3 separate regions of the Homo sapiens genome follow, and all the other regions are linked to region 3. Evidence: fine-mapped expression QTL. A gene starts in region 3. Each other region holds a variant in brackets. All regions are shown on one strand. Distances are between the middles of the regions. Region 1 has its middle 55 kb from the start of BHLHE40-AS1. Region 2 holds the start of LOC124906210 (a long non-coding RNA gene). Region 3 holds the start of BHLHE40 (basic helix-loop-helix family member e40).

The links.
Region 1: its variant is fine-mapped to the expression of BHLHE40 in whole blood (TOPMed, PIP 0.91).
Region 2: its variant is fine-mapped to the expression of BHLHE40 in fibroblasts (GTEx, PIP 0.90).

Annotation. Positions count from the first base shown.
Region 1 is chr3:5,031,167-5,039,504 of GRCh38, forward strand. No RefSeq gene overlaps it. Among named protein-coding and RNA genes, the nearest start is that of BHLHE40-AS1, 55 kb to the left of the region's middle. RefSeq lists an enhancer at 482-983. The variant G/C (reference allele first, on the strand shown) is at 4,107.
Region 2 is chr3:4,702,890-4,711,227 of GRCh38, forward strand. It overlaps ITPR1 (inositol 1,4,5-trisphosphate receptor type 1), which reads left to right. Exons shown (of 62, transcript NM_001378452.1): 36 at 1-61; 37 at 3,278-3,462; 38 at 7,436-7,584. LOC124906210 (a long non-coding RNA gene) reads right to left here and starts at 7,463. Exons shown (of 3, transcript XR_007095797.1): 1 at 7,380-7,463; 2 at 4,340-4,563; 3 at 2,335-2,800. The variant C/T (reference allele first, on the strand shown) is at 4,672.
Region 3 is chr3:4,973,636-4,981,973 of GRCh38, forward strand. It overlaps BHLHE40 (basic helix-loop-helix family member e40), which reads left to right and starts at 5,802. Exons shown (of 5, transcript NM_003670.3): 1 at 5,802-6,163; 2 at 6,327-6,396; 3 at 6,666-6,773; 4 at 7,757-7,880. The coding sequence starts at 6,084. BHLHE40-AS1 (BHLHE40 antisense RNA 1) reads right to left here and starts at 6,326. Exons shown (of 3, transcript NR_125916.1): 1 at 6,160-6,326. RefSeq lists enhancers at 4,024-4,213, 4,334-4,383, 4,514-4,633, 5,934-6,083, 6,191-6,785 and 1 more and silencers at 4,744-5,513, 5,724-5,783.

The sequences.
Region 1 (8,338 bases), 58 kb after region 3:
GATCACCTGAGGAGACCAGCCTGGCCAACATGGTGAAACCCCGTCTTTACTGAAAATACAAAAAAAATTAGCCGGGTGTGGTGGAGCATCCCTGTAGTCCCAGCTACTTGGGAGGCTGAGGCAGGAGAATTGCTTGAACCTGGAAGGTGGAGGTTGCAGTGAGCAGAAATCTCGCCAATGCACTCCAGCCTGGGCGACAGAGCAATACTCCATCAAAAAAAGGAAGGAAGGAGGGAGGGAGGGAGGGAGGGAGGGAGGGAGGGAAGGCAGGCAGGAAGGAAGGGGGTAATTAGACACACACACACACACACACACACACACACACACACACACACACACACACACTTTGTGCTGGGACAAACAAAGCCTAATCTCCCAAATTCTGAGATCAAAGGGTGGGAACAGAGTTAGGTGAGCCTTTCTTTAGCTAAGCACTGCTCGCTGACGTTCTCCAAGGCATGTCATTCCTGAGGAGGGTGTAGGAAAGTAAAATGCTTTGTCTAATCAAAAGAGAGATTTGAGTATTTTTGTGCAAAAGGAGCAGCCCAAAGTGAGATGAATCTAGAGAAATAGAGGAGCAGAAAAATGTGAGGGAGAGAAAGGAGAGTCAAGGAACTTGGAAGGAGGCTGGGGCCTGAAGAAGAAAGGGGCTAGTAGATCATTCCTAGTTAAAAATTGTGTGTGGGGGCCAGGTGCGATGGTTCATGCCTGTAATCCCAGCACTTTGGGAGGCCCAGGTGGGTGGATCACCTGAGGTCAGGAGTTTGAGACCAGCCTGATCAACATGGTGAAACCCCGTCTCTACCAAATATAAAAAATTAGCTGGGCGTGGCGGAGCATGCCTGTAATCCCAGCTACTTGGGAGGCTGAGGCAGGAGAATCGCTTGAACGCTGGAGGCGGGGGTGGCAGTGAGCCAAGATCATGCCATTGCACTCCAGCCTGGGCAACAAAATTGAAACTGTCTCAAAAAAAAAAAATTGTGTGTGTGCGTGGGGAAGGCAGGGTTAGGAGTTGGGCCTGTGTTAGGTGAAAGAGATTTGGGGGTTTAGGGGTGGAGACTGAAGGGAAGGAACTGTGTTGCACCATTTCCATGTTAGAGCTGAGCAGACAGAAGTTACCAACTTCAGTGAGGTGGCTCATGCCTGTAATCCTGACACTTTGGGAGGCTGAGGCAGGAGGATCACCTTAGCCCAGGAGTTTGACACCAGCTTGGACAAGCATAGCGAGACCCTGTCTCTAAAAAAACTAAAAAAAAAAAATTATCTGGGTGTGGTGGCTCATGCCTATAGTTTTAAATCCTCAGGAGGCTGAGGTGAGAGGATCACTTGAGCCCAGGAGGTTGAGGCTTCAGTGAGTTGTGATCATGCTAGTGCATGCCAGCGTGCATGACAGAGTGAGACCCTGTCTCTAAATAAATAAATAAAAATTAAAAATTAAAGAAAAAAGTTATCAGCTGCCTGAGATGAGATGCAGTTGAGATAAAATGGTGGGAACAGGACAGGCCTGGTGACTGAAAGAACACCAAATCCCAGGAACTTCCAGCTGAGGGACTTCGCTGAGGAGGTAAGTAGGGGCCTTCAGTCATTTCTGTGTTTCAAAGAGTAGGCAAGACTCCACCCTTGGTAAAGGGCCCTGAGCCGTTACCTTACTCAGGGTCAGCTCCTGGTGCCACTGTTCACCTTATCTACCATTTGAGTGAAGTCATTTAGCATCCCTGGGCCCCAGCTTCCTTTTAAAATGGGTAATAATGACATCTGTGTCACCTTCCCTCCAGGGTTCCTGTGAGGCATAATTGGGGTATTAAATGAGAAATGCTTTGTAAAATGGAGAGCTCCAGATAAATGGGAGGTATCAGTTAACAGTTCATATTCAATTGATCTGAATGACAGCACCAGTATAATAATAACCTACAGCCGGCACTCCATACGAAGCACTTACTGTGTGTTATCTGACTGAAACGTTACAACCTTGACGGAATATTGCTGTCCTGATTACACACGGAAGAAAACGGAGATTCAGAGAGATAAAGTAACTTGCCCATGGTTACTTGGCTAGCAACTGGTAGAACCAGCCATGAATGACTCTTTTATTCTTAACCACTTTGTGTCATGTTATTTTAATAATCATTCTTAACATTATGCTAGCCTGCATCTTGAAGAATATATAATATGGCTGGATGCAGTGGCTCACACCTGTAATTCCAACACTTTGAGAGGCTGAGGTAGGAGGATCTTGAGCCTAGGAGTTCAATTCCAGCCTGGGCGACATAGCAAAACCCCATCTTTACAAAAAATACAAAAATTGGCCGGGTGCGGTGGCTTATGCCTGTAATCCCAGCACTTTGGGAGGCCGAGGCAGGCGGATCACGCGGTCAGGAGATCGAGACCATCCTGGCTAACGTGGTGAAAGCCTGTCTCTACTAAAAATACAAAAAAATTAGCCGGGCGTGTTGGCAGGTGCCTGTAGTCCCATCTACTGGTAGTCCCAGCTACTCAGGAGGCTGAGGCAGGAGAATGGTGTGAACCCGGGAGGCGGAGCTTGCAGTGAGCCGAGATCACGCCACTGCACTCCAGCCTGGGCGACAGAGCCAGACTCCATGTCAAAAAAAAAAAAAAAAAAAATACAAAAATTAGCTGAATGTGGTGGTGCGAACCTGTGCTCGCAATTACTAGAGAGGCTGAGGTGGGAGGATCAATTAAGCCTAGGAGGTCGAGGCTGCAGTGAGCTGTGATCACACCACCACACTCCAGCCTGGGTGACAGAGCAAGATCCTATCTCATACACACACACACACACACACACGGACACAAACACACATATATATTATGGGTACGGTGGCTCATGACCATAATCCCAACACTTTGGGAGGCTGAGGCAGGAGGATCACTTGAGCCTAGGAGTTCAAAACCAGCCTGAGCAATATGGTGAGACCCCCATCTCTACAAAAAAATAAAAATAAGTTAACCAGACATGGTGGCATGCACTGTAGTCCCACTCTGGAGGCTGAGGTGGGAGGATTTCTTCAGCCCAGGAGGTCAAGGTGGCAGTGAGCCGTGGATCATGCCCCTGAACACCAGCCTGGGTGAAAAAGTGGGACCCCGTCTCAAAAAAAAAAAAAAAAAATATATATATATGTATATATATAATATGTTAGTATATACTGGTAGTGGTGGTAGTGGTTCTTCACTAAGATTTTAAAATATCATTTTGGGCTGGGTGCAGTGGCTCACGCCTATAATCCTAACACTTTGGGAAGCTGAGGCGGGTGGATCAGCAGAGGTCAGGAGTTCAAAACCAGCCTGGCCAACATGGGGAAACCCCATCTCTACTAAAAAAAATACAAAAAAATGCCGGGTGCGGTGGCTCACACCTGTAATCCCAGCACTTTGGGAGGCCGAGGCGGGTGGATCACAAGGTCAGGAGTTCGAGATCAGCCTGGCCAACATGGGGAAACCCCATCTCTACTAAAAATACAAAAATTAGCCAGTGTGGTGGTATGCGCCTGTAATCCCAGCTACTTGGGAGGCTGAGGCAGGAGAATCGCTTGAACCCAGGAGGCACAGAGGTTGCAGTGAGCTGAGAACGTGCCATTGCACTCTAGCCTGGACAACAGAGTGAGACTCCATCTCAAAAAAAAAAAAAAAAATTAGCCGGGCATGGTGGTAGTCGCCTGTAATGCAAGCTACTTGGGAGGCTGAGGAGGGGAGGATCACTTGAACCCGGGATGTGGAGGTTGCAGTGAGCTGAGATTTCACCATTGCACTCTACCCTATGTGACAGAGCAAGACTTGGTCTTGAAAAACAAAAACAAAAACAAAAACAAAAAAAACCCATCATTTTGGTCTTTCATTTGAAATCTCTCTAGTAAATACCTATTATGTGCTATGTATTTGGAACACCTCCATGAGCAAAAGACACAGGGTCTCTTGCCCTCATGGAACATACAGGGTAACAATAGAAAAAAGGTATTAAACAATTACAATACTGGGTGCCAAAGGGGAGGTACTTTGGGTTCAAGGAGGAAAGGACACCTTAGCTGAGGCCTAAAGAATCAAGGAAGGGTGGGAGAGTGTTCCAGGCAGATGAAATAAATAGCAATGAGAAG[G/C]CCAGGAAGCAGAGCATGCATGAGGCGATGGAGGAAATGAAAGTAATACCCTGTGGTCCACTTTGGAGGGTGGGGTGGGCAGTGGTGAGAAATGACACTGGGGAGGGGGTCTGGGACTAGACTGCACAGTGGCCTTGTGAGTCATGTTGTCATATATAAATATATAACATATATTTTATATATAATTTATATATTTTAGTTATGCATTAATATTTATCATATGTAATTTTATATGTGTATGTATTACCTATAATATGTATAAATGTATGTATACATGTGTATCTATGTAATTTTTCCTTAGAAACGAAACCAGTTTGAGCCCCACTAAAAAAAATTAAAAATAATTTAAAAAAACCTAAACCATAATCACGCATAATACTGTTTCTTTTCTTTTTTTTTATACTTTAAGTTCTAGGGTACCTATGCACAACGCGCAGGTTTGTTACATATGTATACATGTGCCATGTTGGTGTGCTGAATCATGCATAATACTGTTTCTTAATCCTTATTGAGATAAAATTGACATACAACAGATGACGTGCATTGAAAGTCTACAATTTGATGAGTTTTGACATTTGCATGCACCTGGGAAACCATCACCACAATCAAAGAACAGAGAACTCCATCAACCTCAAAATTTACTCATGCTGGGTTGGGCACAGTGGCTCATGCCTGTAATCTCAGTACATTGGGAGGCTGAGGTGAGAATTGCTTTAGCCCAGGAGTTCGAGACCAGCCTGGGCAATATAGCGAGACCCTGCCTCTACAAAAAATACAAAAATTAGGCAGGCGTCGTGGTGCACACCTGTAGTCCCAGCTACTCAGGAGGCTGAGGTGGGAGGATTGCCTGAGCCCAGGAGGTCGAGGCTGCAGTGAGCCTTAATAGCTCCACTGCACTCCAGCTTGGTTGAGAGTGAGACTTGGTCTCAAAAAAAAAAAAAAGTTTACTCATGCTTTTGTGACACCTCACTCCTGGCCCTCTCAGTCCCCTGGCAACCATCCTTCTGTTTTCTGTTGCGTTTTCTAGAATTTTGTAAATCGAATGTATCATGTATATGAAATCATATAATCTGTACACTTTTAAAACGTAGCTTCTTTCCCTCACATAACTACGGCGAGAGTCATCTGTGTCACTGCACATGTCAAAGGTTTGTTCCTTTTCGTTGCTGTAGTATCCTGCACTGTTTTGAAACCTGTTTTGTTCCTTAATATATCAAGATAGCTGGGATCTAGGTCAAACTGCCAAAGTTGAAATATCAGTCATGCTGTTTATAAGTGGGTGAGTTTGGGCAAGAAACCTCGATATGTTACCCAGTTTCCCTTGAGCTTAATGGCCATGTCTGTAAAATGGGCTAACAGTAATAGTCACAAGGGAGGCAGGTTGTGTGAGATGATGTATATGCCTGTGTATAGCAATTGCTCAATAAAAGTTATCAAGAATATGATTGCTATTACTACTATTACAATTCACACCTGGAGCATTTTAAGAAAACATCAGACACAGTCGTGGAACATGGATGTGCCCCTGAGTGTAGGAGGGAGAGAGCCGGGGCCAAGTTCCCTTCTGATAACATCATGGGCTCCAAGGTGGCCATGGCTGGTTCCTTCACCCTTTTGGTCCCCAGATTCTCCTTCTAGGGAACAATGGCATCCAGAAGTGGGGGTTGGGTGGAAAAAGAGATTAGAGAGTCTCTACAGACAAGAGAAAAGGGAAGCTAGCTCACTGCAATCAATTTGATTACCAGGCAGTCATGCCTCCTCATTTGAACCCCAAAGACCCACGTCTTCCTCGATTGCTCACTCAACTAACAGATTAAATCATCTCTAACACGCAATGACTGTGTTATGTTTAAAAAGAAGCGTTTCCAAGGCTCACATACAAAGGAGGTGCCCGCCTTGTGTCTTGACCACAGTGATATAAAAATTAACTGCATTGATCATATCCTTCCTGGGCTCCACTTTATCATCCTTCTGGGCTAGGTGGTCAGTAGCAAAGAGAGCCATGGAGTCGCATAGAAATATACCCAGCCACCCCAGCTTTAGAGTCAGGTGAGTCCTGGGTTCAAATCCCACTCCCACCGCATGTTAGTACTTGTACCTGAACCAGTTACTTGAACTCCTCAAGGGATCATATTTTAAATGGGGATAAACATGACGCCTCACATCATGGGTATGTCGTGAAGGCTGAAGCACAAGTGGAGTGGACAGTCCTGAGCATAGTGCCTGGCACAGGGGAAATGCTGCACATAGGAAGTAAAGGGGTTACCGTCAACCTCTGAGCGTTGCATGTGTGCATGTAACGTGTGCGTGTGCATGTGTGTGTTGTGTGTGTGTGTGTGTATGTTTAAAATAAGCATGTTCTCTAACTCTAAGCCTTCTGTCTTTATGGTCCTCCTGAAATCACACCTTGAACAGCAGCCTGCCTATTTTAGGCAGCTCACCAGCTGGACGTGATGTCCCATGAGCAACAGTCAGAAGGAAGTGAGGATGTGTAAGCTGGGAGCTAAGTGGGACATGATCATTGTCATCAGGAAGGGCTGCCATAGGAAAGGTGCTTTAATTCACACTGTTTCAACCCAGAGGACTAAGACCCATGGGCGAATGCCTCTAGGAGGCAGAGGAACAACTGTCTTGCAATCAGAGAAGTCAAAAAAAAGAAGGGGACTGCCTCAAGGCTTACTCAGCTGCCTGTGTGGATGTGTTCAAGCTGAGGCTAGGTGACCAGGTGTCAAAAATGTGGTCAAAGTGATTCCTGATGTAGGAAGTTGGACCAGACGAGTAGCTTTCAGCTGGATACAGAGGAGGTGGTGGGCAGGGCTCGGGGTCTCCACACTCTTACAGCTACCACAGCACTTCCTCTTTTGTCTGTTTTATATATTTGGGCTCCTGAAGATTTGAAGATTTAGCTATTTAAAATAAGAGGTTGTGGTGTTTTTTTTTTTTTTTTTTTTTTTTTTTTTTTTTTTTTTTTAAGCCCCTGGCCTGGATGACTTTTTGAGGCCTCTTGGAACTTTGGGGCTCCAAGTCGATGATTCAGAATTGCCTGTGACCTTGTGTATTTGTCAGAACTCTTTTTGGTTGCAAGTGTCAAAACTCCTCTCAATGTGGCTAAAGCAAGAAGTGGATTTAAGTAACTTGAGAAGCCTGCAGGGCTGTTGTGGTAGTTCGCAGAACTGGAAAACAGAGTGCAGCAGCCATGGCCTCCAGGACTAGAACCAGCAACCCAGGGCTGCCCAGACTCTCTTTCTTTGTCTGGCTCTTGGCTCTGCTTTTCTCACTTCTCTCTGAGTTGGCCTCTGGGGCACATGGCAGCCAGCAGCCCCAGTTGTGGGAAAGGGATTTGGCTCAGGTCATCCATCTGGGCCCACATTTTGAGCTCTCAGTTACCTCTGGCAATTTAGAAGATGGAGAAGTGGGTCAAGTTTAAACAAACAAACGAAAAATGGAATAGGGGAGCTGGGAGTGGTGGCCTTTTCCTATAGTCCCAGCTACTTGGGAGGATGAGGCTGGAGGATGGATGGAGGCCAGGAGCTTGAGGCCAGCCTAGGCAGCACAGTGAAAATGCCTCTCCCCTGACCCTGTCTCTACAAAAAATACATATTTTAAGTTGGCCCAGCATGGTGGTGCCTGCCTGTAGACCTAGCCACTTGTGAGGCTGAGGCAGGAAGGTTGCTTGAGCCTAGGAGTTTGAGGTTACAGTGAGATATGATCATACCACACTGCACTCCGGCCTGGATGACAGAGTAAGACCCTGTTTCTAAACAAAAAAACAAACAAACAGGCTGGGTGTGGTGGCTCATGCCTGTAATCCCAGCACTTTGGGAGGCCAAGGCGGGCAGATCACTTGACGTCAGGCGTTTGAGACCAGCCTAGCTGACATGGTGAAACCCTGTCTCTACCAAAAAATATAAAAATTAGCTGGGCGTGGTGGCACGTGCCTGTAATCCCAGCTACTCGGGAGGCTGTGGCAGGAGGGTTGCTTGAACCTAGGAGGCAGAGGCTACAGTGAGCCAGGATGGCGCCACTGCACTCTAGCCTGGGTGACATAGCAAGACTCTGTCTCAAAACCAACCGACCAACCAACCAACCAACAGACAAACAAGGAATAGGGTTCCTCAGTTTGGGGGCTGGTGAAAAAGAACACTGAACAGGAAGACAAGAGACTTGAATTTGAATCCCCAAATATGCTTGTGCTACTGATCAGCTGCAAGCCAGAAGCGTCTTTTCAAAAG
Region 2 (8,338 bases), 270 kb before region 3:
TGGTTAATGCCAAGCCAAAAAGCCTCCGTGGAGAGCTGTATTCGGGTGCTGTCTGATGTAGGTAAGATACCAAGTCAGTTTGGATATACGTGATGAAAATGAATTGTCTGACAGTAGTAAGGCTGCCATTTATTGAGCACTCATTACAACTCTTCTAAAGTTACACAGACAGGAAGTTTCAGAGCCAGACCCGGAACCAAGGTCTTCTTGATTGCTGGGCTTCTTTTTTTATCTACCAAGCCAGCATTTCCCAAGGGAAGAGCCAGTGAGTCCTAAGTCAGATAGGCCTAGATAAACAAGCTTCCATGGTTGTTAGGCAATTCTTTGGCAAGTAACGATACACACAGCTTATTCAAGGCCCTGGGAAGTCCCTCATTCAAGAAACTAATTTGTTTAATCCAGCAAATGTACTTGACCATGTGGTAACTTTTTCCTGGAAAGCACCTGTCACATCCTAAGGAACACCCTTTCTCAGAAATGGTGCACTGCTCCCTTCTTCCCCTTGAGTAGAAATGATTCTCCATTTCCTCTGTGACTCCCCTCCTGTCCCGCCTCTCATAGGCAGCCTTTGAAAGGAAGTTAGGAAAATTTCTTTTTCCTTCATCCTGACTTTATCAGACTCCATGACTTGACCCATTCCCCACCCCCTATTAATGTTGTGCAAAGAGGTAAGCTTCCTGCCTGAAGTTGAGAAGAGAGTTACCTGCCTGGAGTGGCCTCTTAGATCCTTGCAGACAGTAACAAGAAGAGCAAGACAGGTGTAGTTCTCAGCATTATTTAGTGGCTGTCCAGCAACTGTCAATTGTGTAGGTAAGATATCAAGTCAGTTTGGATATACCTTGGGAGATACGTATAATCTATTAGGACTGTTGCCTGATTTCGGTAGTCTCTCGCCCAGTTCCTTTACTCTCCTATGGTAGGTGTTGATGTCTTTTTATTATTGGTGTGGCCGTATTTCACAGTAAGAAATTAGGTTTTGGAAAATATATACACGACAGGTTCATTGTGTTATATCTTAGAAACAGGGCCCTGCAATGAAATTCCCAGATAACCCTATACTTTTTCCATACAGGATTATCTATCAAAAAGAATGTGCCTGGTGAACTAATGTGGAAGTAGAAAGCCAAATACCACACGTTCTCACTTAAAGTGGGAGCTAAATATTGGGTCCACGTGGATGTAAAGATGGGGGACTACTAGAGGGGTAAAGGGGGAAAAGCGTTGAAAAACTACCTGTTGGAGGCCGGGCGCAGTGGCTCATGCCTGTAATCCCAGCACTTTGGGAGGCTGAGACGGGCAGATCACCTGAGGTTGGGAGTTCAAGACCAGCCTGACCAACATGGAGAAACCCCATCTCTACTAAAAATACAAAATTAGCCTGGCATGGCGGCGCATGCCTGTAATCCCAGCTACTCAGGAGGCTGAGGCAGGAGAATCGCTTGAACCTGGGAGGCGGAGGTTGCGGTGAGCCGAGATCACGCCGCTGCACTCCAGCCTGGGCGACAGGAGCGCAACTCTGTCTCAAAAAAACAAAAAAATCCCTACCTGTTGGGTACTCTGTTCTCTATCTGGGTGATGGGTTCGATCATACCCTAAACCTCAGCATTAAGCAATACACTTCTGCAGCAAACCTGCACGGGTACCCCCTGATTCTAAGATAAAAGTTGGAAAAAAGAAAAAAAAAAGTTGTGCTTGTTGAGGCCAAAGGAAACGTAGGAGGAAGCCCTTGCCACAGAGGTTAGTTTTTGTTTAATATTTTAGCAAGTGGTTGACTTGACTAGTAGCTCAGTGCTCATTAGAGAGGGGAAGTCTTTCCATTTGTCTTGGTGGTGATAAGACAAAAGACAAGGAGAGTTGATGTCTGTGGAACGGTAAGACATGAAAACAGCACTACCCAGAGTCCCCTCTGTGCCTCTTGGGGGTCGCTTCCTCATGACTAATACCACACCCAGAACCCACTGTGTTAGTTGTTTAGCTTATGAATATCCAAGGCATAGAGTTTCTAGCTGTGACGGGTGTACCCTGTGCATCCTGCTTTTCAATTGTTAATTATTTGTATTTTTCCAAATTTCCCACTTTCTATATTAGACTGTTAGAAAGTTGTTGGCTGGCTTATAGTTTTTTTTCCGCTAAATTGTGTGTGTGTGTATGTTTTTAAATGGGATTTAAATAATTGCTTCTCAGATTCCTCTTTCAGGATGTTGGAGTTGTTTTTACAATTAGATAGTTGAGTACTTTCTTTGCTTCTAGTGTTTTGAAGCATTGAAGACAGGAAATCATTGTTTTTTGGACATTTTCCCATATGGAAAAGAGTGATTATTAGTCTTAATTATCTTCCTTTTCAAAATCTTTTATTTTGGAATAATTTCAGGTTTATGGGACTGTAGCAAGGGTAATACAGAGAGTTCCCACAAATCCCTCACCCATTGTCACCCGTTGTCAGCATCTTACATTAGCAGGGCACCTTTGTCAAGGCTAGGAAACTGACACTGGTACAGTGCTATTACCTCAACTCCAGGCTCGATTCGAATTTCACCACTTTTCCCACTGCTGTCCCTTGTCATGCCCTTTTTCTGTTCCAGGATTTGGTCCAGGTACCACCTTGCATTTGGTTGTCATGTCTCTCCAGTCTCTTCTGGTCTGTGACCATTTCTCAGCCTTTCCTTGTTTCTTATGACCTTGACAGTCTTGACAAGTACTAGTCAGGAGTCCTGTAGAGTGTCTCCCATTATGGGTTTGACTGATGTTTGTCTCATGCTTAGACTGGAGTTCTCCTTTTTTAAGACGAAGAAAGAAGCACCTATCCAGAAAGAGGAGTTTATGCCATTGTGAATGCTACCTTTAGGATTATGTTTGGGATAACCCAGCATTTTTGTAGATTGTTGAACAAACCTGAAAAATAACTAGCAAATGATTCATTGGCCAAACGAGTTCCCTGTCTTGATTATTCTTAAAATACACACACACCTCAGTGACCCTAAGAAGCCATTCATTGAGGAAACCCATTGAACTTTAACTCTGACATGCCCTGGCCTTATGACCTGAGAGCATTTTAACATTCCTAAGAACTGCTTCCCCCCAGAATTCACACTGGGAAACCCTGACCTAAAAGATGGTAAAGTTGACTTGAGCTTCTCAGTCTTTAAGCTCAATACCAGGCAAGCTGGCCCATTCTGGGTGTGAAAAACCTGCTGGATGGGGACTAGGGCATTACGTCCATCTGTAGGGTGTCCCCCATAAAAGTTGTAGGCTCACGACTCATCTTTCTCCTGTGCAGCCAAGAGCCGGGCCATTGCCATTCCCGTGGACCTGGACAGCCAAGTCAACAACCTCTTTCTCAAGTCCCACAGCATTGTGCAGAAAACAGCCATGAACTGGCGGCTCTCAGCCCGCAATGCCGCACGCAGGGACTCTGTTCTGGCAGCTTCCAGAGACTACCGGAATATCATTGAGAGATTGCAGGTAATGCCTGGTGTTGAGAGAAGTGATGCTTAGCCTGGCCTCACGTGATTGCCACACACAGCAGTGCATCCTTGAGCCACAGAGCATCTAAGCTGGGCCGTGGGAAGATGTCGGTGTGCTGAACGAATAGTCAAATGTTATATATGTAGGGCCAGGAGTGGGAAGTTACTTAGGAATAGAAAAGTTCCTGAAAAGTGATGGTCTTTAAAGGTTACTCCTAGATTTGCAGATTTCTTGGTGAAAAATTGGGACTCTGCTCTTATTAGAAGGAAGTATTGAAGTATTACAGAGGATGTTTAGAGTAAGAGCATAAATGTTCCATTTTCCCCATCACTCTGGGGTTATTTAGCCTCTTGAATCAGCAGGTGAACAAGGGTGGTGATACCTGAGAGAAGAATTTTACATCAGAATGAGCCAGATGGAAACAAAAGTATTCCTTCCAGCTAGATTATTTACCTTTTTTCGTAGAATCTACCAAGACATCTGCTCTCCTTTTGTTAAAGGGGAGAGTAGTGAGTATTAGATGTTAAGCACTTAAACATGCATCTTAACATTAACGTATTTTTTATACAAGCACCTCAGTTGATGCTCTCACAGGTAGTACATAGGTCACAGTTTGAGAATCGCAGATCCTTTGAATGAGCCCACAAGCAGTGTTTAAGAGTGTAGTCTCAGGCCAGTGCCTGGGTTAAATTTAAATCCTGGCTCTGCCGCTTAGAAATGGTGTAATCTTGGGAAAGTTACTTGACTTCTCGGTCCTTCAGATTCCTAGTCTGTAAAACAGTAGCACCTACCTCGTGGGGTTGATGTGAGGATTAAGAGAGTTGATAATATGTCCCAGTTACCTGTATTTCGTGCAGTAAATCACAACAATTACCTTATTCTCTTTTGCTCTTCTGGAGGTTGACTGGGCTCCGCTAGCTATTTCTTGCTTAGAGTCTTTCATGGCGTTGCAGTCAGATAGTGACTGCGGTTGGACTCATCTTGACACCTTGCTCACTCGCATATTTGGCAGTTGATGCTGGTTGTCAGGTGGGACCTCAGCTGGAGTTGTCGACTGAAACATCTCCATATAGCCTGGGCTTCCTCACATCATGGCGGCTGTGTCCCAAGATGAGTGTGTGTAGAGAGAGACAAGTGAAAACTTTATTGTTGTTATGACCTAGTTTCAGAAGTCACATAGCGTCACTTTTACTGTACTCTTTTGGT[C/T]AAGGCAGTCTCAAAGGTTCACTCCAGTTCAGGGGGAGGGAATCTAGACCATCATTCAGTGAAAGGGATGTCAGTGTCACATTGTAAGAAGAATGTGAAAGACAGGATGTATTGTGGTATAGCCATCTTAGGAAAATAGAGTGCACATAAAACACATAGAGCAGTGCCTGGCATGTAGTGAGCACTCAGTTGAGGGCTGCTATTATTATTATTACTATTATTACTGTTGTTTACTGCTATGATTGTAATAGTTACTGAGTCTCTGTACAGTTACACAACCTACTTGAAGACAGATGAATTCGTTAAATCATTCATCAGCTCCATGCTAGGCTCTGGGGATACAGTGGTCAGCAAAACCAGAAATGATGATCTTTGTCTCATAGTATCTCAAGTATCAGAAGGGAGAAAGAGACATTAATTTTAAATATAAAATGGTGAGAGGGACAAGTGAGAAGTGCAGAGAAGTGAGGAGCGCTTGAAAGATTCTGATGAGGAAACTAATTTTGTCTGAGGTTAGGGATGAGGGTCAAGGAAGACCTTGCTGAGGAAAGTAACATTTTGAACCAAGATGAGAAGGAACAGCAGGACTTAAAGAATAAAAGGGAGGGAAACAGCATGTGTAAAGACCGTTATACCGAAAAGAAGATGAAAATAAAAGTATTACTCAATTCCAGCTAGATTATTCCTTTTTTTTCTTAGCGTCTACCAAGAGATCTGCTCTCCCTTTGTTAAAAGGGAGAGTCGTATTAGATGGGTGTTAAACACTTAAACGTGCATCTTAACTTGACCTATGAAACCCTGCTCTTATGAGCAAAGGAAGTTGAGTGTGGCTGGAGCCAGGAAGCTGGGGAGGCTGGCGGGATTTCTCGGGTCAAGTTAAGAATTTCAGCCTTTATCATAACACAACCAGTTCTTAAATAACAAAGAGAACCAGTTCTTGATTCCTGATGGAGTGCTTCCTGATCCCACTATGCTTTTAGAAAGGCGGGAGGGATGTTGTAGACTCCTCACTCCATGAGCATACAGTATTTTCTCGCCTGCTCAAATGAAACAAACTATCTGCAATCAAACATGCTGGTTTCTTGTGCTCTTCTTAGATTTATTATGCATATTCTTGGGAAGTTAAATGAAACGCGTAGGTGGGCAGTACTGTTCTAAGGACTTGGCCAGTGACGTAAAGGATTTGCATTATCCAGTTATTTACTGTCTGAGTTTTTGTGGTTGATGAGATTGCCTAGTGCAGCAAAAGTTGTAATATAAGAAATTCACTCGCAAACAGACCACTTCTATAATTAATCCCCATCTAGACATCCTTCTCACTTAATGCTAGCATCTTTCCCCGCCCATTGCTTTGCCATCTTTGTTGATGTCTCCTTGATTGCTGAATGCTATACATTTGACAGTACAATGCAAATCAATTGCAATGTAAAGTTCAAACTGTGCAAAAGATGCAGGATTTCATGAAATACATGAACATGATAAGAACAACTTTAATCCTGTGTAAATACCGTAGACAAAGATTTGCCAGAGTCAGGATCAATAACTATTGAAGAGAATATTGACTGGGTGCTTCCAAAAGGGATGCTATGGGGGGAACTGATAAGAGCCTCAGAATTTTGCAGAAATGACCCTTTTTTGACTGTGCTGTGAAAGTCAGTATGAACTAAGGGATGTTGCAAAGTACCGTCTTACAGTCTTGTTGGGAAAATTGCCCCACTCAAAATTATTTGATTGATTCATGTATCTTTATGCATCTTAAACCTTACTGAGTGATTACATTCATCACCCAAATTGTGTTAAATCTAAGATTAAATTATCTTCATGTCATTAGTTTCTGGATGAAAGATTAGTTAATTCTTTGTCAATCCCAACTGGGTCCCAATTTAAGCAGCTTTTCCCATGCAAATGTCCTTGGGTAACCAGGCCTTCCTGTATTATCCAACGTGCTGTGTTTGGCCCCTGTCTTAGCCAACATGCCTGTAGGCAGGTTCTGAGTCACCAAACCATGGAGCAGGCTTTAGCATCTTTTGAAGATAATTTCTCATCTGTTTTCTATCATTTGCCTTCAAATGGTGTTTGTTGTGTTGGTTTTGCTGCTCTTTCAACTTCTCTCTGTTTTCCTTTCCTACAGCTATGTGTTTTGCATTTGAAGACCATCATGCTATCAGGGTACATGTATTTAGCATGTTGATACAGCATGTTCATTCATTGGTGTCCTCATGTTTGTATGACTTTATTATGTGAATAATTCATGCTCATTGAAAATAAACAACACTGACAAGTATTTCTATATAGAAGAAAATCAGAATCACCTGTAATCCCACCACCCAGAGAAAACCAGTAGTAATGTTTTAATATTTGATGTTTATCCTTTAGCTAGATATTGATGATGTTTATAAAAATAGGATTATTATTGTTTGACCTTTGTTATGCCCATGTCATAGACATCTTTCCATGTTGTTAAATTGATTTTTTGCGTCATATTTTAAGCTACATGCAGTGGTACCTTGAGTAGCATAAGGGCCACCTTGAAAGAAGGGGTGGTGGGAAAGTTGACTTGTTTTCACTTTGTTTTCTGCATCAGAGGCTAATGTTTCAGGTAACCATTGGGCAATGTCTAATAATTTGAGATGCCAGACGGTACTAAAGTTACTCTAACCTAGCCTACCCGTGCATCAGTGTTTTAGGGCAGAAATCAATGTCCTCACCCTCCTGTGGTCAGCGTCTGCCTGAGCCGTTGACTGAGGCTGTGTTTCCGTTTTAGGACATCGTCTCCGCGCTGGAGGACCGTCTCAGGCCCCTGGTGCAGGCAGAGTTATCTGTGCTCGTGGATGTTCTCCACAGACCCGAGCTGCTTTTCCCAGAGAACACAGACGCCAGAAGGAAATGTGAAAGTGGCGGTTTCATTTGCAAGTAAGCGGCCTCTCTCTCTGGGGTGTTCATTTGCCAGAACCTTGATGACCTCACAAAGCTTTTGTTCCCGAAGAAGGAGACGTTGTCCTGTTTTTTAACTTTGATGAATGCAAGGTCATGTGCTAAAGTCCTGTTCTGACCTCCCCAAAGTAAGTTTGTCTATTAAATCCTGCTTACTGACACTTTTTTGTTTTGTTTTGTTTTGCTTTGTTTTTTGGTGAGAAGTTCTTATTTTCACTGCATGCCCATTCATTCATTCATTACAGTGCACCCACCGTGTGCTGTGGTACAGACATAAAAAAGCCATGATCCCTCAGCCCTCAGAAATCTCAGATCTATCGTGACCTCACCATCTTTTCCTAATAATTTTGTAATTTCTTAGTTTATGCCTTGTGCGTAATCTGTAAGCAACAAGCAGACCCATGGTTAGAAATCTCCATTAGATTTTTGCCCCAAGGCCGGACACGGTGGCTCATGCCTGTAATCCCAGCACTTTGGGAGGCCGGGGCTGGTGAATCACCTGAGGTCAGGGGTTCAAGACCAGCCTGGCCAACATGGTGAAACCCTATCTTGACTAAAAATACAAAAATTAGCTGGGCATGGTGGCGGGCTCCTGTAATCCCAGCTACTCTGTGGCTGAGGCAGGGGAATCACTTGAACCCAGGAAGCAGAGGCTACAGTGAGCCAAGATCGCGCTACTGCACTCCAGCCTGGGTGGCAGAACGAGACCTTGTCTCAAAAAAAAAAAAAAAAA
Region 3 (8,338 bases):
AGTCATGCAAAATTTTTTGATAAAGACCCACGCACAAGCTGTAAAAGAAAATACTGATAGATTGGACTCTACCAAAACTAAAAATTCTACTCATAAAGGACATCATTAATAAAATCGTGTTTCTGACAAAGCACTTGTAATTAGAATATATAAGGAACTCCTAAAAGTCAACAATATAATGGCAAAGTTGCAGGATACGAGGTCAATATAGAAAATTGGATTGTATTTCCATATACAACAATTATAAAGGTAAGTAATCCAATTTAAAAACTAAGCAAAAGATGTGGACAAATACTTCAGAAAATAAGATATACCAATGGCCAATAAGCATATGAAAGAGTGCTCAACTTCATTATCAGGGTAATGCAAATTAAAATGACAATAAAATATTATTTCATACCCATTAGAATGGCTAAAATTTAAAAATCTGTCTACCCTAAACGTTAGTAAGGTTGTGGAGCAGCTGGAATTCTCATACATTGTTGGTGGTATTGTAAAATGGTAACACCTCTTTGGAGATCTGTTTGGCAATTTATAATAAAGTTCACATATATTTAATCTGTGACCCAAGAATTCCACTCCTAATATTTATCCAACATAAATGAGAACATACGTTCACAAAAGAACTTGAACATGAATGTTGATAGCAGCTTCATTCATAACAGCCCCAAACTGGAAACAACCTGAATATCCATTAACAGGGAACTAGATAAACTGTGCTATATGTGTATGATGAAATACACTCAGCAATAAAAAAGAACAAAATTCTAATACATGTGCTAATATGGTAGGATCTCAAAACTATATTGACAGAAACTTTGAAGAGTACATTCATTTATACGAATCTCAATAATGGACAAAGTTAATCTATAGTGATAGAAATCAGAAAGTAATTGTGGGGGTTGGGGGATTGATTGGAAAATGATATATAAAGAAACTTTCTGGGGTGATAAAAGTGTTCTGTATCTTGTGTGGGGCAGTGGCTACATAGGTGTACATTTACCAAAAATAATACACCAAACATTTAAGATCTGCATTTTATGTTTACCTCTCAATTAAAGAATTAAATGCCGTTATTTTTTAAAAGAGCAGAAAATGAGAAGGTTGATTATAAATAGGGAACAAAGGTAGGAATTAACAGATGTTTTCCTGAATGGAGACCTCTATACCATTGAGTCCAACCAGAATCAGCAATTTTATTTAACATTTTTATAAGTTATTTGGAAGATCTTCAAGTGTGCAGATGCCACTGATCTCTTTCTGGTGGGGCCAAGCCAAAAATACAACACTATCTCTAGAGTAAGGCAAGTTTTTATTTTTTATTTATTTTGAGACGGAGTCTCACCCTGTCGCCCAGGCTGGAGTACAGTGGCATGATCTCGGCTCAATGCAACCTCTGCCTCCTTGGTTCAAGCGATTCTCCTGCCTCAGCCTTCCAAGTAGCTGGGACTACAGGCGTGCACCACCATGCCCAGCTAATTTTTTAATTTTCTTAGTAGAGATGGGGTTTTACCATATTTGCTAGGCTGGTCTTGAACTCCTGACCTCATGATCCACCTGATTTGGCCTCCCAAAGTGCTAGGATTACAGGCGTGAGCCACTGTGCCCCACAGGCAAGTTTTTAAATTTCAGGTCATGATCCATTGGTGAGTGGTGAGATCAACTTAGTAAGTCATGACCTGAATACTTTTAATAAAACAGATGAGACTAAACTGGAAAGTATCAGAATGTATATAATAACAGTGAAATATTGTTCTGTGAAATTTTTGTCTGAAATGCATTGGATTGACTTTTTTTTTTTTTTTTTTTTTCCTGAGACGGAGTTTTGCTCTTGTTGCCCAAGGTGGAGTGCAATGGTGTGATCTCGGCTCACTCACTACAACCTCTGCCTCTTGGGTTCAAGCAGTTCTCCTATCTCAGCCTCCTAAGTAGCTGGGATAACAGGTGCCCGTCACTATGTCCGGCTGATTTTTGGTATTTTTAGTAAAGCTGGGGTTTTACCATGTTGGCCAGACTGGTCTCGAACTCCTGACCTCAGACGATCCGCCCGCCTTGGCCTCCCAAAGTGCTGGGATTACAGGCATGAGCCACCACACTCGGCCTGATTGACTTCTTTCTAAGTGGCTCAATTTTTTCTTTTTTCTTTTTTAAGAGAGCAATGGTTACTCAGGAGTATAGGAGAGAGGGTAGCGGTCACTTATTGCTATAGCCCAACCAAGCTTTGGCTGCCCTATGCTTAAATATACTTAAGATGTGTGTAAAGACATACGTGTGTGTATTGAGACATGATGTAAAATGTATTTCTTACCGTGAGCTGAGATAAAAATTTTTGAGGCTTCATAAGCAGGTAAAAAGTGATATCTGAGCAAGCAAGTTGTGGGGATGTATAGGGGAGCTTGGGGCTCTAAATTCTTGCACAGGAAGGGCCCGGGAGTTACTATAGATAGTAACAGTATAGACTCATTCAGCACACAGTGTAAGGCCACCAAGATGCTGAGTCCCAATAGGAAAGAAGAGAAAGATCCCATCTTTCTCTTGTACGAAATTATGTTCTCTCCCCACTTAGAAGAGACAAAACAGCAGGGACGGCTACAAAATGGCAGGATTACCCAGTGCAGCTGCTCAGTGCCACATTGCACAACTCCAGAGGGTGCTCTCACACAGACTGCAATGTGAATAGCTCCCCCTGGAGTTGAGCGGTGCACAACCCAAACAACCCTACCAGGCAACCGTAAGTATAGTGATTAAGAGCACAAGCTTTGGAGTCCAACAAACCTGGGGGCCTGTCTCAGACTGAATCCCAGACTATATAACCTGGGGCAGGTTATTTAGCCTCCTTGAGCCTCAATTTTCCAAACAGAATATGTTATACATCCCTAGGGCCTATTTCAGTGTCTGGCATTGAATAACAATAAACACGTGTCAAATGCATCGAGCTAATACTAGTACCTGCCTAAAAGGTGGTGGTGAGGAGCAAAGAAATTGACATACGAAAGGTTTTTAATATCTACAAAAGATGACAGACTGAAATAGTAACATTCTCCAGGATGGAAAGATCTATGCCACGTAGGAATTGTTTGTTCAAATTATTATTTTTTAAAAGCCATAAGCTATGGAGAGAATAACAGAGTTTTGTTTTGTTTTTTAATCCTGATACGGTGGAAGTCTGGTAGGATGGGAACCGTTCTTGAAGCTTGAGAATACATTCGGAACAAATAAAAAGTAGGAAATGCATACATTTTGTTATTTACAGTTGTAGGGCAGGTAAGGGCAAAACGTATTGATAAACTCAAAGAATTTTAAGAATGATATTGTCATGAGCCATGAGCCATGGAAGCTGCAAGGTTTGGGCTCCCTCCTGCCATCGGGTGGGGGGTGTCGGCGGAAGGGGGTACGTGTCCTGTCCTCTCCCAGTGCTTATTTCCTGCTGGAACCGTGGTTTTGACGCAGCCGTGACAGCCCTTCATCCTTATTAAAATCACACAATGAAGCAGGTCGCCCAAGATTGAAAGCGCGTTTCCAGGGCGGACCCCGGTCCCCGCCTTTGGCCAGCAAAAGTACATTCTGGCAGGGAGGGATCTCTGAGCCCCGAAGTGAGGTCATGCCAGTTAGCAGTTAGAAAAGGAGGCATTTCTCACACTTGCTAAAGAGTTTGACGCTTGTGAAATATAAACAGGAAGCGGGAGCTCTCCAAGGCGACCTGAAGGAAATACACTGCCAGTTTGGTCAACTTGTGAATGCCAGTTCTCTAGGTCGTCAAGGGCACTGCCAGTTAAGACTGATCCCCTAACTGCACCCGAGGCTACTACTCTTCGCCCAGTCTCGGCAGTGACCCCATTTTTTTTTCAATCCTTCCCACAGCCAGGTCACTCAGCAGTGGGGTGACTGACCCGAAGCGCAGTGGGAAGGGCTTACAGTCATCTCTCAACTCCCCGAACTTGCAGGGCAGGGGAGCGCAGAGGTCAGTGAAATCCCCAGCCAGGCCTTATTTTAGTCATGAGTTTCCACTGGCTCCCTCCTCTGACTGTATCAGCGCTGCTCACACCGCGGGATTGGAGTTTCAGCTGTTTTCCCTGCTCCCGGCTGAGTGAGAAGGTCACAGAGCCCGGACCTTTCCGGGGGAGGTGGGTGGGGCCCTCCGGCAGCCTAAGTGAGATTGCAGAGATCTGGGGCCGCTGGAGGAGGTCCTTCCGCCCCGGGCTTGGGGCTTTGGGTTAGCTTCTCCCCCGCTTCTCTACCTAGGCATCTCGGTTACAATGAAATTAAAAACAAAACACAAAGCAACACAAGTTCTCATTGTTTTTCCCCTCTGTCAGCCAGTGGCCTCGATACAATTTTCCCAGGGCTGCCTTTCCTTTATTGCTCAATTTAACCTCTTCCTAGAGGTTCTGCAAGTTCAAGGGCAGGATCCGTGTCGGATTCATCAACTAGTGCAGCGCCTAGTGCAGAGCAGGGGGCTCAAGAAATACGTGTCGACCGCATGATTGCTAAGATTTCCCTGTAACAGGCGGTTTTTTTTTCTTGTCTCTCTCATCCCTCCTGCCCTGGGTGCAGACCGCGAACAGCGCCGCCGAACTTCCCAACAGGCAGGGAGAGGGCCGATCCGGGCTGGCACGCCACGTCCCCGGGGTCTCAGTCCCTGGGTCAACGCAGAGAGGCTCGCGGTCCGCGGTGCTACGACCTGAGCCCGGCCACGTGAAGCGTCACGCCCTGCGCTGCTGCAGGGCAGGCGCCGCCGCCGCGGTTGTGTAACGCTGCAGCCGGAGGGGAGGCGACCGGGGCGCCTCTGCTCCGGAGGGGGCAGAGGAGGGAGGGAGCGCCGGGCACAGCGCCCGGTATCTTTCTGCGCTTGACTGGCCGGGAGGAAGGGGGTGACACTGGGGCACCCAGGGGGCTGCGCAACCGGGTGCCCGCCCGCCCGCAGGTTGTGCCCAGGAGCGGAGCTCCTGGGAGCGAGGGGCCCTCGGCTCACACCCTCCACGGTCAGGTGCGCGCGGCGTGCTCGGCGGCAGCCTCAGCTGCCCCTGCGCTTGGCCGTCGGCCCGCTTCCCATGGGGTGACATCCGCCCCGCCCCTCGGTCCCTCCCCAAGGCGGGCAATTCCTGGACGCGAGGGTGAGCAGTGGGGGCAGGGAAGCCAGGACGGAAAGAAACCCCAGCCTCTGGGGAAGGCTGGGGGGCCGGGCGACTCCCTCCGCAGCGCGCCGGTTCCTCCAAGCGGGCCGGGCGGGGGAGGAGGAAGAGGGCTGGGCTGGAGCTAGCAAGGGGATATTCCTCTCCCGGCTTGAGTCAGACGCGGGCGGATCCGTCCTCCCCCGTTCCCTCCCAGGAGACGGGAACTTACTTCATTTCCCTGGGGCAGGTTCGCCCACGTTACCAACTTCTCCCCCTCCCCCAGCACCCCCGTCCCTTCCAGCTTCCGCGCCCCCCACCCAACTGGGCAGGACCCAGGTCGTGCTGCCACCCCCTCTTCGGGGAAAGGCGGCCGCAGCCGCAGACACCTGGGGGCCGGGGCTGGGGGTGGGGGCTCCCTAGCAGCCGCCGGAGCGTTGTCCAACACGTGAGACTCATGTGATGAAGCCGGGGGAGGGCGGGCAGGTCGCTCCTTCCCTCCCCGGCAGTGGCCAGACGTGCCTGGAGTCACAGGGTAGAACACGTAGCTCCAACCCACCCACTCGCTCCCATTTAACCCAGCCCGCAGCCTCTCCATTACTCCTCGGCTTGCCCCCCCACCCCCCCACTCCGCCCTAACCGCCCCCCCCTCACCCGCTCCCTCCCGCCTCCCCGCCCGCCCCACTTCTCATTCACTTGGCTCGCACGGCGCAGACAGACCGCGCAGGGAGCACACACCGCCAGTCTGTGCGCTGAGTCGGAGCCAGAGGCCGCGGGGACACCGGGCCATGCACGCCCCCAACTGAAGCTGCATCTCAAAGCCGAAGATTCCAGCAGCCCAGGGGATTTCAAAGAGCTCAGACTCAGAGGAACATCTGCGGAGAGACCCCCGAAGCCCTCTCCAGGGCAGTCCTCATCCAGACGCTCCGCTAGTGCAGACAGGAGCGCGCAGTGGCCCCGGCTCGCCGCGCCATGGAGCGGATCCCCAGCGCGCAACCACCCCCCGCCTGCCTGCCCAAAGCACCGGGACTGGAGCACGGAGACCTACCAGGGTAAGTTGGCACTCCTTGGCCCTTCAAGCCTCAACTGCAGCCCCATGTTATGCGCCACTCTCAACTTGGAGCAGCTCCGGGCGCACCGGGAGGTTCTTGCCCGGCAGAACGCCTGCAGCCGTGCGCAAGCAGTCACGACCCTTCCTGGTCTCTCTTCCTGCAGGATGTACCCTGCCCACATGTACCAAGTGTACAAGTCAAGACGGGGAATAAAGCGGAGCGAGGACAGCAAGGTAAGCAAGTGCACCCCTAGGGACCCTGCGCTCAGCCCCTCGCGCGCGCTGAGTTTCCAAGAAAAGTTTTCTCGCTTTGAGGTTGGCGAGGGGATGCAGGGTGTGGGCTCGGTGCCTCTTCTGAGTGACTTGGAAAAGAAAGGGCAGACGATGGTTCTGGGTGCTACTCTGCTACTCTGCTCCTCTGCCGGACTGTTGCTGCGGGGCTGGGAGGATAGGCTTCTCATCTCCTTCCCCAAGCGCCCACCGCCTCCCCGTGCGTCTTGCAGGAGACCTACAAATTGCCGCACCGGCTCATCGAGAAAAAGAGACGTGACCGGATTAACGAGTGCATCGCCCAGCTGAAGGATCTCCTACCCGAACATCTCAAACTTACAGTAAGTGAGAAGCTGGCCCCTTTCCAACCCAGTCCTTTGCCCAGAGGGCGGGCGGGTCACTCGCCGCCTGCAGGTTCCGCGGGGAACTGCAGACCAGACTGGCGGATCAGAGCTGGCGGGTGGCTCTGCGGTGGGGTCCTCCTCCACAGTCCTGGCGTTTTCTGGCTGACTCATGCAAATGAGGCGAGAACCACTTGGACCTCTCCAAGTTGGCTCCAACACCAACTGGCCTTCCTTTTCAGGAGTTTAACTTCTGGTGATTTTCAGGATTCCCTAGTTTTTCTCACTTAAAGGAACACGCCAAGAAACACACACATTTTATTTACCCCTTCCCCTCTACCACTCCCCCCACCTTTTTTGTTGTTGTTGTCAAATAAGGGGACTTGCTTTGGTGTGTGATTTTTACGGCCTGTCCTTTCTTGACAGTAGCCCTCGGCTACTTCGCAGCCTTTGGTTGGGGAAATGGAAAAAAAAAAAATAGTATTTCGGGAGGAACAAAAAAGCCTGGATGAGCTGGAAGTTCTGAAAGGGTGTAAGGAAAGAAGTAGGGAAAGCCTCTTGGCTGCCAGACGTAATAGAGGTCCCTCTCTGAGTTGACACCACTGCAGGAAAATGTTATCTCTGGATTCCCCTGAGTTAAGGTCGGCAGAGGCTGCTGGAGAAATTTATCTGTCAAAGGATTTTCCTGAGGTAGTTGCAGCTTCCAAAATGCCTCCAAAGACAGGTGGCACCCGTTTTTTTAAATTATTTAATTATATATATATATTATATATATATACACACACACACACACACACACACACACACACATATATGAGTGTATCTGTCTATCTTTTTAAAAGCATGACCTACAGACTTAAAACAGCCAACCAGGAAACACTATTCCACTTTTTTTTTTCTTTTCTCATTTCTCATTGCTAATAAATGTCCCAAAGGTGGGACTTCTCTGACCTCACCGCTGACTAAGGCTCTTTTCCTTCCAGACTTTGGGTCACTTGGAAAAAGCAGTGGTTCTTGAACTTACCTTGAAGCATGTGAAAGCACTAACAAACCTAATTGATCAGCAGCAGCAGAAAATCATTGCCCTGCAGAGTGGTTTACAAGCTGGTGAGTGCTGATTCTGGCTATGCTCTCTTTAAGAGTTTGAGTGCAAATAGAGAGCCCGTGGGCTCAACATCTGATGTAATAAACATTACTGCAACAAATTGCTTATGCACGTTCATTGGGGGAGATGCAGTTTTATCTTTCCTAAAAGGTCAGACTTTTCATTTGAAATGCATTGTGCCACCTGGCATGAATACGTATTAGTGAAATGATAAGATATTCCTGTGGCATTTTAGCTTGAGAGTCTCTGGGTTCTGGGAGATTTCCCTACTCCCTTTTAAAATGCCAAGGCACCTATAATTTGCATTGTGGGTGTTTTACAGTTGGTCTTCTTAGCCCTCTTTCATTGGAGAAGAAATCATGGGTATGCCCCAGCGTTTTCCTGTTTCTTTGCTTCCTTGTCACTTGGTGTGTGGTGTGATCCTGGCAGGATACAGCAGGAGTTTTTCCTGCATTTCATG